Linked DNA regions of Homo sapiens. The protein of the gene in region 2 purifies or fractionates together with the protein of the main gene of each other region. This does not show direct contact. Each region holds a gene or a part of one and is shown on either strand. Other genes may lie near its edges.

The links.
Region 1: the proteins of POLR2J2 (region 2) and RPAP1 purify together in Homo sapiens (co-immunoprecipitation; one large-scale study listed by IntAct). This does not show direct contact.
Region 3: the proteins of POLR2J2 (region 2) and DUSP3 purify together in Homo sapiens (co-immunoprecipitation; one large-scale study listed by IntAct). This does not show direct contact.

Annotation. Positions count from the first base shown.
Region 1 is NC_000015.10:41,527,114-41,530,758, reverse strand, and holds part of RPAP1 (RNA polymerase II-associated protein 1), read left to right. Parts: intron 1-779; coding exon 780-895; intron 896-1,190; coding exon 1,191-1,289; intron 1,290-2,422; coding exon 2,423-2,524; intron 2,525-2,731; coding exon 2,732-2,899; intron 2,900-3,153; coding exon 3,154-3,336; intron 3,337-3,457; coding exon 3,458-3,592; intron 3,593-3,645. UniProt on the Homo sapiens protein: Forms an interface between the RNA polymerase II enzyme and chaperone/scaffolding protein, suggesting that it is required to connect RNA polymerase II to regulators of protein complex formation.
Region 2 is NC_000007.14:102,668,809-102,673,129, forward strand, and holds the start of POLR2J2 (DNA-directed RNA polymerase II subunit RPB11-b1), read right to left. Parts: upstream 2,856-4,321; 5' UTR 2,794-2,855; coding exon 2,744-2,793; intron 197-2,743; coding exon 107-196; intron 1-106. UniProt on the Homo sapiens protein: DNA-dependent RNA polymerase catalyzes the transcription of DNA into RNA using the four ribonucleoside triphosphates as substrates. Component of RNA polymerase II which synthesizes mRNA precursors and many functional non-coding RNAs.
Region 3 is NC_000017.11:43,765,519-43,769,016, forward strand, and holds the end of DUSP3 (dual specificity protein phosphatase 3), read right to left. Parts: 3' UTR 607-3,498; downstream 1-606. UniProt on the Homo sapiens protein: Shows activity both for tyrosine-protein phosphate and serine-protein phosphate, but displays a strong preference toward phosphotyrosines. Specifically dephosphorylates and inactivates ERK1 and ERK2.

The DNA.
Region 1 (3,645 bases), on a different chromosome or scaffold from region 2:
CCCGCTCCCGGCAGACTATCTTCCTGTCCTTGCTGTAGCTGCCCCAGCTCTGGCTCTGTCCATCCCACTGTTCTTTCTCTCTCTGCTCACAGTGCTGGGGGAAAGATGGCAGGGCCAGAGTAATAAGAGAGGCAGAATCTGACAAAGATCTTATGAACATGCCAGACCAGAAGCAGAGAGGCCAGTGGAAGCACTCATTTCCCAGAAACTAGATTATTTCATTAGTGATTAACAAAATAAGAAATTGAATTATGAGAGCCAGGAACCTCATGCCCCCGGAGGAGCTCCAGGCCAGCTGAGCAGGTTGGGTGGGGGTAGGCGTGAAGGAGGAAAATGCTGTGGGATTTGTTTCTGTATCCTGCCCCCCAGGAGCAGTATAGTTGCCTCCTCCTCATTGTCCCCACTCTCCTACTCCTTTAAGGGCTGGTACTGGAAAGTGGAGATGGTGCCTTCCTGACATATGTGGTCCTCCTTCTTCATCTTTTTCTCCTTTCTTTCTCTTTCTTCCTTCTCCTTCTCCTCCTCTCTCCCCTCCCAACAAATCCTTGGGGTCAGCAAGGGGCTGGAGCCCAGGATGGAGTGTGTCTGTCATATTTGAGACTTTCACCCCAGCCCCAGGAGTTCCAGTCCCTGGGCCATGCCATTTAGCCATAACCGAGGGTAGAAGCTGGCAGATCCTGGAACAGAAGTGGATGTGGCAGCTGCTGGGTGATGGTGGGGACCCCTGTGGATAGTGAGCTGAGCCGTTTGGGTAATACTATCATGCTTTGTCTCCCCAGCTCTGGCATTGCCCGTGACCCCTCAGAAAGAATGGCTGCACATGGACACTGTCGAGCTGGAGAAGCTCCACTGGACCCAGGACTTGCCCCCTGTCCGGCGGCAGCAGACACAGGAGGTGAGGAGGGCCACCTGGCCTACAAGGGGTGGGTGAGATAGGGCAGGAGAGGAGCTGCTGCTCTTGCCCTCAGAACTCAGGCCTTTCTATTGCCCAGAGCCTGAGAAGCATCTCTCCTTTGCTCTCACCCACCTTTACCATCACTCTGCCTGGCCCCCAAGGCCAGATAAGCCCCATTTCTGGTAGAAGTAGAGTCAGTACCTAAGTCCTGAAAGGCCTGGGATTAAAGGTGGGGAGTGGGTGTGGGAAGGTTGCTGGAGCCCCCAGACCACAGTCCTCTTTCTCTTCCCATTAGAGGATGCAGGCTCGATTCAGTCTTCAGGGAGAACTACTGGCCCCTGACGTGGACCTGCCCACCCACCTGGGTCTGCACCACCATGGAGAGGAGGCAGAGGTGAGGCATGGGACTGGAGAGGATGGGGCAGCTCTTTTAACAACCCCATGGAAAAGGATCTCTGGTCAACTGCCTTTGACCTTCTGTGTGCCCTGTTCTAGTTCATGCCTTTGCTGTGCATTCAGTTTCTTTTTTTGGAGACAGAATCTCGCTCTGGCCCAGGCTGGAGTGCAGTGGTATGATCTTGGCTCACTGCAGCCTCCACCTCCTGGGTTCAAGCCATTCTCCTGCCTCAGCCTCCTGACTAGCTGGGATTACAGGCGCATGCCACCACGTCCAGCTAATTTTTGTATTTTTAGTAGAGACGGGGTTTCACCATGTTAGCCAGGATGGTCTTGATCTCCTGAGCTTGTGATCCGCCTGCCTCGGCCTCCCAAAGTGCTGGGATTACAGGCGTGGCATTCAGTTTCTTAGGCTCAAAATCTTGATCCTCTCTCCGTATTCTGGTCAGTTGCTAGAATTTGCCGATCTTCTGTCACCTCCTCATGATGCCTCCTGCACTGTGGCCTTGCTTCCTTGGTCTGCTCACTCTCCATGCCCTCCATTCTCCGCCCCCCTGCCATTCCATGTCTCTCGGGGCTGCTGTGCTGATTTCTTCTGGCCCAGCTCAGGCCATGCCTTGCCTCCAGAAGTTTCCCAGCTTCCCTCTGCTCACAAAATAAGGTTCTGGTCTCAGCTGGGCAAGATATTCCTTCTACCTTTTGTCCCTGCTGACCCTGCTGCTCTGCCTCCTTCACTTCCTGCTACACCACTCTGCTGGCTTCTCCCCACATACCTCCTGTGCTCAGGGCCCTCCAGGACTCCACTCGCTCCAGGAAATGCCTTTGCCTTTTGCTCCATGTCAGGCCATCAAAGCTCTACCCATCCACTGAGACCAATTTAATTTTCCAGGTTCCCTTCTCTCTCTCTCCTGTCCGCCGGTCGCAAATTAAACATCAGTTATCACGTTCCTCTGCATCTGCCTCATGGCATGGTTACTTGTATGCAAGTCTTATCTTTACCGGCTTGAGGCTCCATGGAAAGCAGGGCAGATTTCACTTATTTATCTTTGTCTTTCCTGTGATACCTTGCTTGGTGTTTTGGGGGCACTGTGCTGTATCCTGGCTGCTTCTGACTTCTTGTCCCTGCCCCAGAGAGCGGGGTATTCCCTACAGGAGCTGTTCCACCTGACCCGCAGCCAGGTTTCCCAGCAGAGAGCACTGGCACTGCATGTGTTAGCCCAGGTCATCAGCAGGGTGAGTGGATTGCCAGCCTGGTCCTGCCCACCCTTCCCTTCACCCCACAGCCTCAGACTTCCCCATCTCCTGCCCTTTTCACTCTGGCTCACTAGCCAGCTATGTGCTTTTAACAACCTAGGATCATAGGGGGGCAAACGAAGGATTAGGGCAAAGCCTCTAGATAACTTCAGCATCTTCAGCAAGGTTTTACCCTCCTGCCCTCAGGCCCAGGCTGGTGAGTTTGGGGACCGGCTAGCAGGCAGTGTCTTAAGCCTCCTTTTGGATGCTGGTTTCCTCTTCCTACTGCGCTTCTCCTTGGATGACAGAGTGGATGGGGTCATTGCAACCGCCATCCGTGCTCTTCGGGCTCTGCTGGTGGCTCCTGGAGATGAGGTACCACAGGGATAGGAATGGGGCTTGGGCTGGGAGGTGCCAGGGTCCATATTCCTGTTCCTGGGCATGGCCCCATTGCTAAGGCTTTGCGGGCAAGATGTAGAATGGGATGGCAGGCGTCTCCCTCATCTCCTAAAGTCCCTAAAGCCCAGGAGGCTTGCCTTTATGGTTTTTATTGGGGAGCATCCTCTCTACTCCTGGATCCATTTCCTGGCCCCTTCAGCATTGCCCCCCAACTCCCGTTCCTCTGGCAGGAGCTCCTCGACAGCACCTTCTCTTGGTACCATGGAGCTTTGACGTTCCCTCTGATGCCCAGCCAGGAGGACAAGGAGGATGAGGACGAGGATGAAGAATGCCCAGCAGGAAAAGCAAAAAGGAAAAGCCCTGAAGAAGAAAGCCGGCCTCCACCTGACCTGGCCCGACATGATGTCATCAAGGTAAAGGGACAGCTTCTTTCCCATCCCATGGCCCAGGGGACAAGCACATGCTGGAAAGAGGGGCCATCAATGCCCAGGGTCCAGCTGCATTTGTCAGTGGGTTTCTCTCTCCAACTCCCAGGGGCTCCTGGCTACCAGCCTGCTGCCTCGGCTGCGCTACGTGCTGGAGGTGACATACCCAGGACCTGCGGTGGTCCTTGACATCCTGGCTGTGCTCATCCGCCTGGCCCGGCATTCCCTGGAATCAGCCACAAGGGTGAGAAAAAAGGGAGCAGGGAATGGGCAAAAAGCCTAGCTGGGCCTTGTCTT
Region 2 (4,321 bases):
AAGGACTTCCTGTAGCTCAGAGAGACTGAGGAAGACTTGGAACTTGTGCTTTGCCCAGAGGGGCCCATTAAACATAGCCCCTGAGAGCCTGTGACGGGAAACTTACGATTTAATGATGTTTCCCAGTGTGTGGTCTTCTTTGTTGATGGTGAATAAGCAGGCCTTGGGTACCTTGGTGTCCTTGTTAATGGTGATCCTAGGAAGACACAGAGGCCACAGATGAGGAGCAGGGGCTCCCCTCCTCCCACCCTGAGTCTAAACCCTGTCTCCTCCCGGCCAGGTGTGGTGGCTCGTGTCTGTAATCCCAACACTTTGGGAGGCTGAGGTGGATGGATGACCTGAGGTCAGAAGTTCAAGACCAGCCTGCCCAACATGGCAAAACCCTGTCTGTACTAAAAATACAAAGAAAAAAAAAAAATTAGCTGAGTGTGGTGATCCATGCCTGTAGTCCTAGCTACTTGGGAGACTGAGGCAGGAGAATCACCTGAACCTGGGAGGTGGAGTTGCAGTGAGCCGAGATCATGCCACTGCACTCCAGCCTGGGCAACAGAGTGGAACTCTGTATCAAAAATATAAAAATAAAAAGGAAAAATAAGCTCTGCCTCTTCCTGAAGGCCTTTCTCAATCTCTTCATCCCATAAAGGCCTCGCCAACCCGGTCCCCTACTTCCTGCTACCCCAGGTCTATGGAACCTTGGCCTTTTCTGAATTCCTCCTTTTTTTTTTCCGGTAGAGATGGGGTTTTGCCTTGTTGTCCTCGCTGGTCTTGAACTCCTCGCCTCAAATGATCTCTCCTGCTGCCCAGGCTGGAGTGCAGTGGTGTGATCATAGCTCACTGCAGCCTCCAACTCCTCGGCTAAAGTGATCCTCCCGCCTTAGCCTCCTGAGTAGCTGGGACCACAGGCGCACGTCATCATGCCTGGCCTGTTCCTTTCTTCTTACGCCAACATAATGAAGCAACCAAAAGGTGAAGAAGAGAGGCCCTGAAGTTACACGGTGAGGCTGGTCCTGACCCTGTGAGTTCCGAAAGCAACCATCCCCCTGGCTGGAGTGTGCAGTCCTTCCATCCATTCCCCAAAACAAGTCATGCTCTGGCATTTACTATGATTTTAGTGAACGCTTAGATGGACAAAGACAGGAAACTTCCATTGGATTTTCCAAGACAAGGGGTTTTCAGAGTGCAGTTCCCAGATAAGCAGCATCAGAATCCCCTGGGAACTTGTTAAGAGTCTCCCACCTCCCACTTACTGGACCCAGAACTCTGGAGGTGGGGCGCAGGGATCTATGGTTTAAGAAGCCCTTCAGGTGATTCTAATGCACACTCAATTTGAGGGCAACTATGCTGACAGTAAAATCTCACACAGGTGAGAGGTATCAAGTTGAATATCCTTTTTTCTAAGGTGGTTTCTCCAGGCTGACACCACACACATTTTAGGGTGCATCATTCTTTCCTGTGGGGTGCTGTCTTGTGGACATTGTAGGACATCAGCAGCATCCCTGACCTCTACCCAGTAGATTCCAGTCATAACCCCCTTTGACAACCAATAATGTTCTCAGTTATTGCCACATGTCCCTTGTGGGGCCAAATGGTCCCCAGTTGAGAGTCTGCTCTAAAGGAGGCCGAAGTGGCTGGCAAGGGCCAGACCAAGACCTCTGCACGCCAACCTGGGAACAATAAGAGCCAATGGTTATGAGGTTTTCCAGGGGCTGAGCTTTGGACCAAGAGTTTTACACAAATTACCTCATCCAATTCTTTTTATTTTGAGACAGGATTGCGCTCAGTCGCCCAGGCTGGAGTGCAGTGATGCGATCAAAGCTCACTGCAGCCTGGAACTCCTGTGCTCAGCTCAAGCAATCCTCCCACCTGAGCCTCCCAAAGTGCCGGGATTAAAAGCGTGAACCAGCGCACCTGGCCAGATCCCTTTTTTTGTTTTTTGAAACGGAGTTTCGCTCTTGTTGCTCAGGCTGGAGTGCAATGGCGTGATCTCCGCTCACCTCAACCTCCACTTCCCAGGTTCAAGTGATTCTCCTGCCTCAGCCTTCTGAGTAGCTGGGATTACAGGCATCTGCCACCACGCCCGGCTAATTTTGTATTTTTAGTAGAGACAGGGTTTCTCCATGTTGGTCAGGCTGGTCTTGAACTCCCGACCTCAGGTGATCCGCCCGCCTCGGGCTCCCAAAGTGCTGGGATTACAGGTGTCAGCCACCGCACCCGGCCTGAATCCCACGTTTAAGTACAGTAATAAACTCATTTTCCAGATGAGGAAACAGGGCCTCCGACAGATCAAGCCACTCGCCCACAGATACAGAGTGAGCCCAAGCTCTCTCCCCTGGACTCCTTCAACCCGCAGGCAGCGAGGAGCCACTGCGGCTTTTACGCAGGCCGCTGACAGATCGGAGGGGATGAAGGATGGAGGTGGCGGGCGAGAGACAAAAAGAGGAAGCTGCCAGATCCCAGAGGAAAAGGGCTATGGAGAACCAGACACTCTGGGTTCGAATACAAGCGCCGCCACTTCCTGTGTCCGGGGCAACTTGCTCGCCTCCAAGCCTCAGTGTCCTCATCTGCAACATGGACACACTCGCGACTGCCTCGCGGAACGGCCTTAAATTTGGCTGACACAGGCCGAGCAGACGATCAAGCAAAAGCTGTTTCCCTCCCGGGGCAAGAGATGGGCAGGAGACACCCCAGAATGCGACAGCCGCAGGCCCGCGCACCTAGGCCCTCCGCAGCCGGCGTCACTTACTTCTCGCCCTCGAAGAGCAAGAACGACTCGAAGGCTGGAGGGGCGTTCATGCTCCCGCCGCCGTTGCGTCCAGACCCCAAGTGTCCGCCACCGCCGCCACCAGAGCCCTAATAAGAGGCCTCTTCCGGATTACTCCGGCGGGGCAAACCCGCCCAAGGATCGGCTCATCGCCCCCCGTTGGGCTGGAGGATCTTGCGCAGGCGCGAGAAAACCCCGAGAGAGACCAGTGCCTCTGCGCATGCGTCAGTGGCGAGCGCACCGCTCCCCCCCACCCCGCACCCCGCACCCCGGCATGGCTTTCCCCGTGGGCGCTTTTCGGCGCATGCTCAGAGCGCCAGCAGGGCTGTTCTGCCCCTACAGAGGCCTCCTAGTCCTGGCTGAGCGGGAACCTCAAGCTGTACCTTTCTCCTTTCCCCATGTCCCTTGATCTCTCTTTGGAAACGTGCACCCCCTTGGAGTGCGCAGCAGGAGGCCCCTGAATAGAGAGAATAAAGCTAAGGGGTAGTGGACAGCTGCGGCTAGCAGCCGTAGGGGGAGCAGAAGATCTCGTGGCCAGAGGCAGATCTATGACAAGCCCCCTGCCCAGGCTGCCTATACCGACTGCTGCAGGACCTCTGCCTGGGGGGTGCAGCTGGCTTGTTAGCCGGGAGGGACAATTGGGTGAGGGATGCAGAAGGAGGCAGGTGTATACAGCAGTGAGAGGGGAGCCCGTAGGGTTACGTATATCTTTTTATATATTATTATTATTATTTAGAGACAGCGTCTCCCTCTGTCGCCCAGGCTGAAGTACAGTGGCGCCATCATGCAGCCTCCAACTCCTGGGCTCCAGAGATCCTCCTGCCTCAGCCTCCCGATAGTTAGGACTGCAGGCATGTGCCATCACACTTAGCTATTTTTTTTTTTATTTTTGGAGATGGTGGGGGGGGGGTCTCCCTATGTTGCCCAGGCTGGTATTGAACTCCTGGCCTCCAGCAGTCCTCCAGCCTCAGCCTCCCAAAGTGCACTTGGTGGATGTGGGCAGCAAGCCACCCAGGTGCCGAGGCAAGAGACCGAGGGCACGAGCTGTTCCAGTATAATAAAATATATAAAATAAGAATAGTTATACTAGATATAGATCTTAGATATGATTATATATGAATCATTAATCATTAGTTTGTAGTAATTATTCTTTATTCCAGTATTATAATAATCCTCGCTCTACAATCATAACCTAGGAAAAACCAGGCCATACAGAGATGGGAGCTGAGGGGACAGTGAGGAGTGACCAGAAGACAAGAGTGCAAGCTTTCTGTTATGCCCGGACAGGGCCACCAGAGGGCTCCTTGGTCTAGCGGTAACGCCAGCATCTGGGAAGACACCTGTTGCCAAGCCCACCGTGGTCTAGCGGTAGCGTTAGTGTCAAGGAAAAACACCCGCTACTTAGCAGACCGGGAAAGGGAGTCTCCCTTTCCCCGGGGGAGTTTAGAGAAGACTCTACTCCTCCACAGGCCCGCCCACAGTTACCCGGAGGCATAACCGTCTCCCTGTGATGCTGTGCTTCAGTGGTCACGCTCCTAGTCCACCTTCATGTTCCATCCT
Region 3 (3,498 bases), on a different chromosome or scaffold from region 2:
TAAGATTTTGTGTAGAACCATAAAGATTACATTGTCAGAGTCTTGACAAACAGGAAGCGAGTCCAATTGCTTCATGTGATAGAGGGAATGGGAACCTCGAGAGGCTTTCTCTGCCCAGACTTCTGTCTGGGAGGAAAAGGCAACTACTTTCTCTAAGGTTTTTTATTCAAAGGAACATAGCACCAATAGTGGAATTTAAGGCATCTGGGGGAAGGGGATATGTTTAGGGACTGTTCATTTGCAGGATCACTCAAATCTCAAAATGTCACCCAGTCATCACGTGAGGCTACCTTGAGATGAACACCCTAGTCCCCTGCTTTCTTAGAAGCACAAACCTTACCTCCTTCATTCAGGACCATTATGGCCATTCTACCTAAGAATATTCCTACCAGAACATTTCTGGTACTGGAAAGGTGTTCATCAATATCTACTGCATAAACAGTGCCATCATGGAACCTATAACTAGCTCAGAACGGCTATGTTTTAGATGATTATTTTTAAAAAGTTAGAAATCGCAAATATAAAAGCTAAGCCCAAACAAAAAAAGCTAAGCATAAAAACGTAAAAGAATACCAACTGTGATAAGAAGGACAAAAAAACAATACCTTTGTAATGTAAGACATTTATTTTGGCTAAAGTTCTGGTGTTTTAACACTGATTTGTGATACAACGGACATTAAACTTCCTTTTAAAAAGAAAAAAACAATTTGGTAGCTCTCCCTTTTCTGTCCAGAAAAATTCACTCTTTCATAATCAAATTACCCTAAAATTTGGTGGCGTTAAGAGGCAACAAAAGTTAAGCTTCCAACGAATCTGTTCTCTCAACCGGAAATGTCTTCTATTTCCAATCAGGATAAAACCTTGACTTACTTGCAAGGACTATCACGGTTAGCCCTTCAGTGATTCCTGACACCAGTTCTGTGAAAAAGAAAATTTCCTGCGAGAAAAGCTCATGTCTTCATATTGAAGATCAGTACTTTTTTTTTTTTTTTTCCTTTAAAACAGTAGCATCTTAACTTGTGGCACAAAAGGCACCAACATTCCCTTTCCAAACCATCCATCACCATGGGTGGAAGGCAGCGCCACCTGCTGCCCATCATATTATGGCTCACATACCCATAATTTCCTTGCGGTGCTGAATTCCAAGTGGGGATTATTAGAGACCCCTCAGAGCCAAAAGGGGACCTTAGAGGTCTTCTAGATGAGTCCCCTCATTTGTAGGTGGTGGTTTCTGGATAACTCAGAGTGGCAGGGACACAGACGAGCCTGTGGAAAGGTATACTGCTTTAAGATTGAGAAGAAAACCATTTGGCGCTCTAATTTTGCCTGGATGGTGCTCTGTCAGTCAAAGAAAGGGAACAGGTCTGGGGAGGGGGTAAGGGCACCCTGAGTTCCTGTTCCATCACTTCCCAGGCAGTAGAAGGCTGTCCAGGAACAGCTCCCATCCGCAGCTGGGCATGTGTTGGCTCTTACACAAGAGACTTTAATTTTACTTGAAGAACTAAGAGCTAAATCTTGTTAAGTAAATACGGGGTTTCAGGGGTGAAGGACTATCAAGAAATCCCAAGTTATCAGCATAAAAGTAGTCCCAAAGTAAAGGCAGTAATTCTCCCAATGGCCTTTTCTCCCTCATGCCCCCACAGAGACTTTCGAGAGGTCCTAGTTAGCCAGCCACACCAACCTGCTGTGTTCGCGTAAGTAGCTGTGCCTGTCCCATGGGGTGACCACTGCCTGGTCATGGGAGGGGAGCCCCAGCCCCAGCTCCCTAGCCTTTTCCAGGAGCAGAGCAGAAAGCTCTACTTCGGGGTGCTACATCCCACCTGGAGAAAGAGCTGCACATTCTAGCCTATGAGGGACCCACCCTTTTCACTTGCTTCTCCGGGGCTGGATTGAGGGTAAGTGCAGTACACCTGGAGATCCCAGGGAGCCCCCTTCTTGAGAAAGAGTATCGTATGAAAGAATCCAGCTTCAGGGAGCAGCAAACCCAAAATCTTGCCCAGCTCCACCTTATGGAGCTGGACAACCCTGGGGGCCAGGCCCTTAATCATTCTGAACCTCAGTTCCTTTTTTTTAAAAAAGGTCACAATACAAGAACAAGCTCTACTAACTTTACAGGGTTACTGTGAGGCTCAAGTTAGATTAAGTTGGAAGGCTACCTAGAAGCTGTGCAGTGAGGTACCCAGTTTAGAGGATGGCCATTTCACTTAGGTGGGTTTATCTGGACACCTTTTTCACTATCTGGAGAAGAAGACACATACTGGTTGTTCAGGGCTGCTGTGGTCACAGAGAAAAGCGGACAGCAAATGACCAGGCTGGGCAGGGCTGCTTCTGTGTGATCAGAGACCTTCCCAGCCGGGAGTGAGGCCTTACGCCACACCTGCCTCTCCGTGTCCCAGCCAGGAGCTCCTGGCCAACTCTGAAAAAGGCACATTCCCTACCTTGGCATATTAACACTGCCTGAATTTAAATGTAAAACTGAGTTGTAAATAGTCAACAAAAGTCCCTGATATTTCTTTCGTTTTAGGTAAGACTCCTTCACAAGGCCTTGCGAGTGATCCTACCATGAATTCAGTCTTCTGGGAGCGTGACACACCCACCAGAACAATGCCCTATATATATTTGGTGCTCAAAAAGTGTTTACTTTCTTAAACTTTTATCAGACACCTATGTGCAAGGTGCTGGGGGCATGGCTGAGGACCTTCTCTTTGCCCAGAGTGACCCTGAAGATAAATAGCATCACAATCACTTTCCATAATAACAATAACGTAAAATCCTAACAAGACTGTATTTAAAACAAAACTCTTATATTCTGGCAAATGTGCATACACATGTGAGGGCTGGTGCATTCCAATATCATCCTTAGAAAGTCTTTTGAAAGGTTTATCGTGTTTGGGTTTTTTTGCTCTACCACCAATAAAGGATCCATTTGGACACTCCGCCATGTCTCATGTCTGCCTGGCTGAGTCACTTCAGGGATCCCGTGCTGGCACCAGAGAGCTGTAAGAGCCACCTGCAATGGGCAGGGTGTGTGCCTGGGACCTTTCACTTCCCTGCTTGTCTTCTGGCCGCGTTTCTGAGAGGCACGCCCCCCACACACATCCATGCACACACGCTGTAATTGGCCAACTTCCTCCTTCTGTTCTTGGAATAGCAACCGAGACAAAAAGCAGTTAGCACGAGTGGCTTGGGCTTGCCAACACTACAATTCAGGACAAAACCCTTGTAATTCTCCAAATGGTGGGGTTTTTAAATAGGTTGGACTTCAACTCCCTGTTTTCTAAAAAAGAAAAAAAAAAAAGCATGCCCAAGGCATCACTCTTCTCAAAAACGAAGTGACTGAGATAAGATCGAAGGGAAATATTCCAGAGCAGCAGATTCTGAACTCAAGGCTTCCAAAGATTCACATTTTGAAAACTCTATGGATTTAGGAGGGTTCTCCAGGTTTGCCCACAAGGCCTCTTTGTGTAGGGACCATTCATCCTAAGGAAATCATTCAAA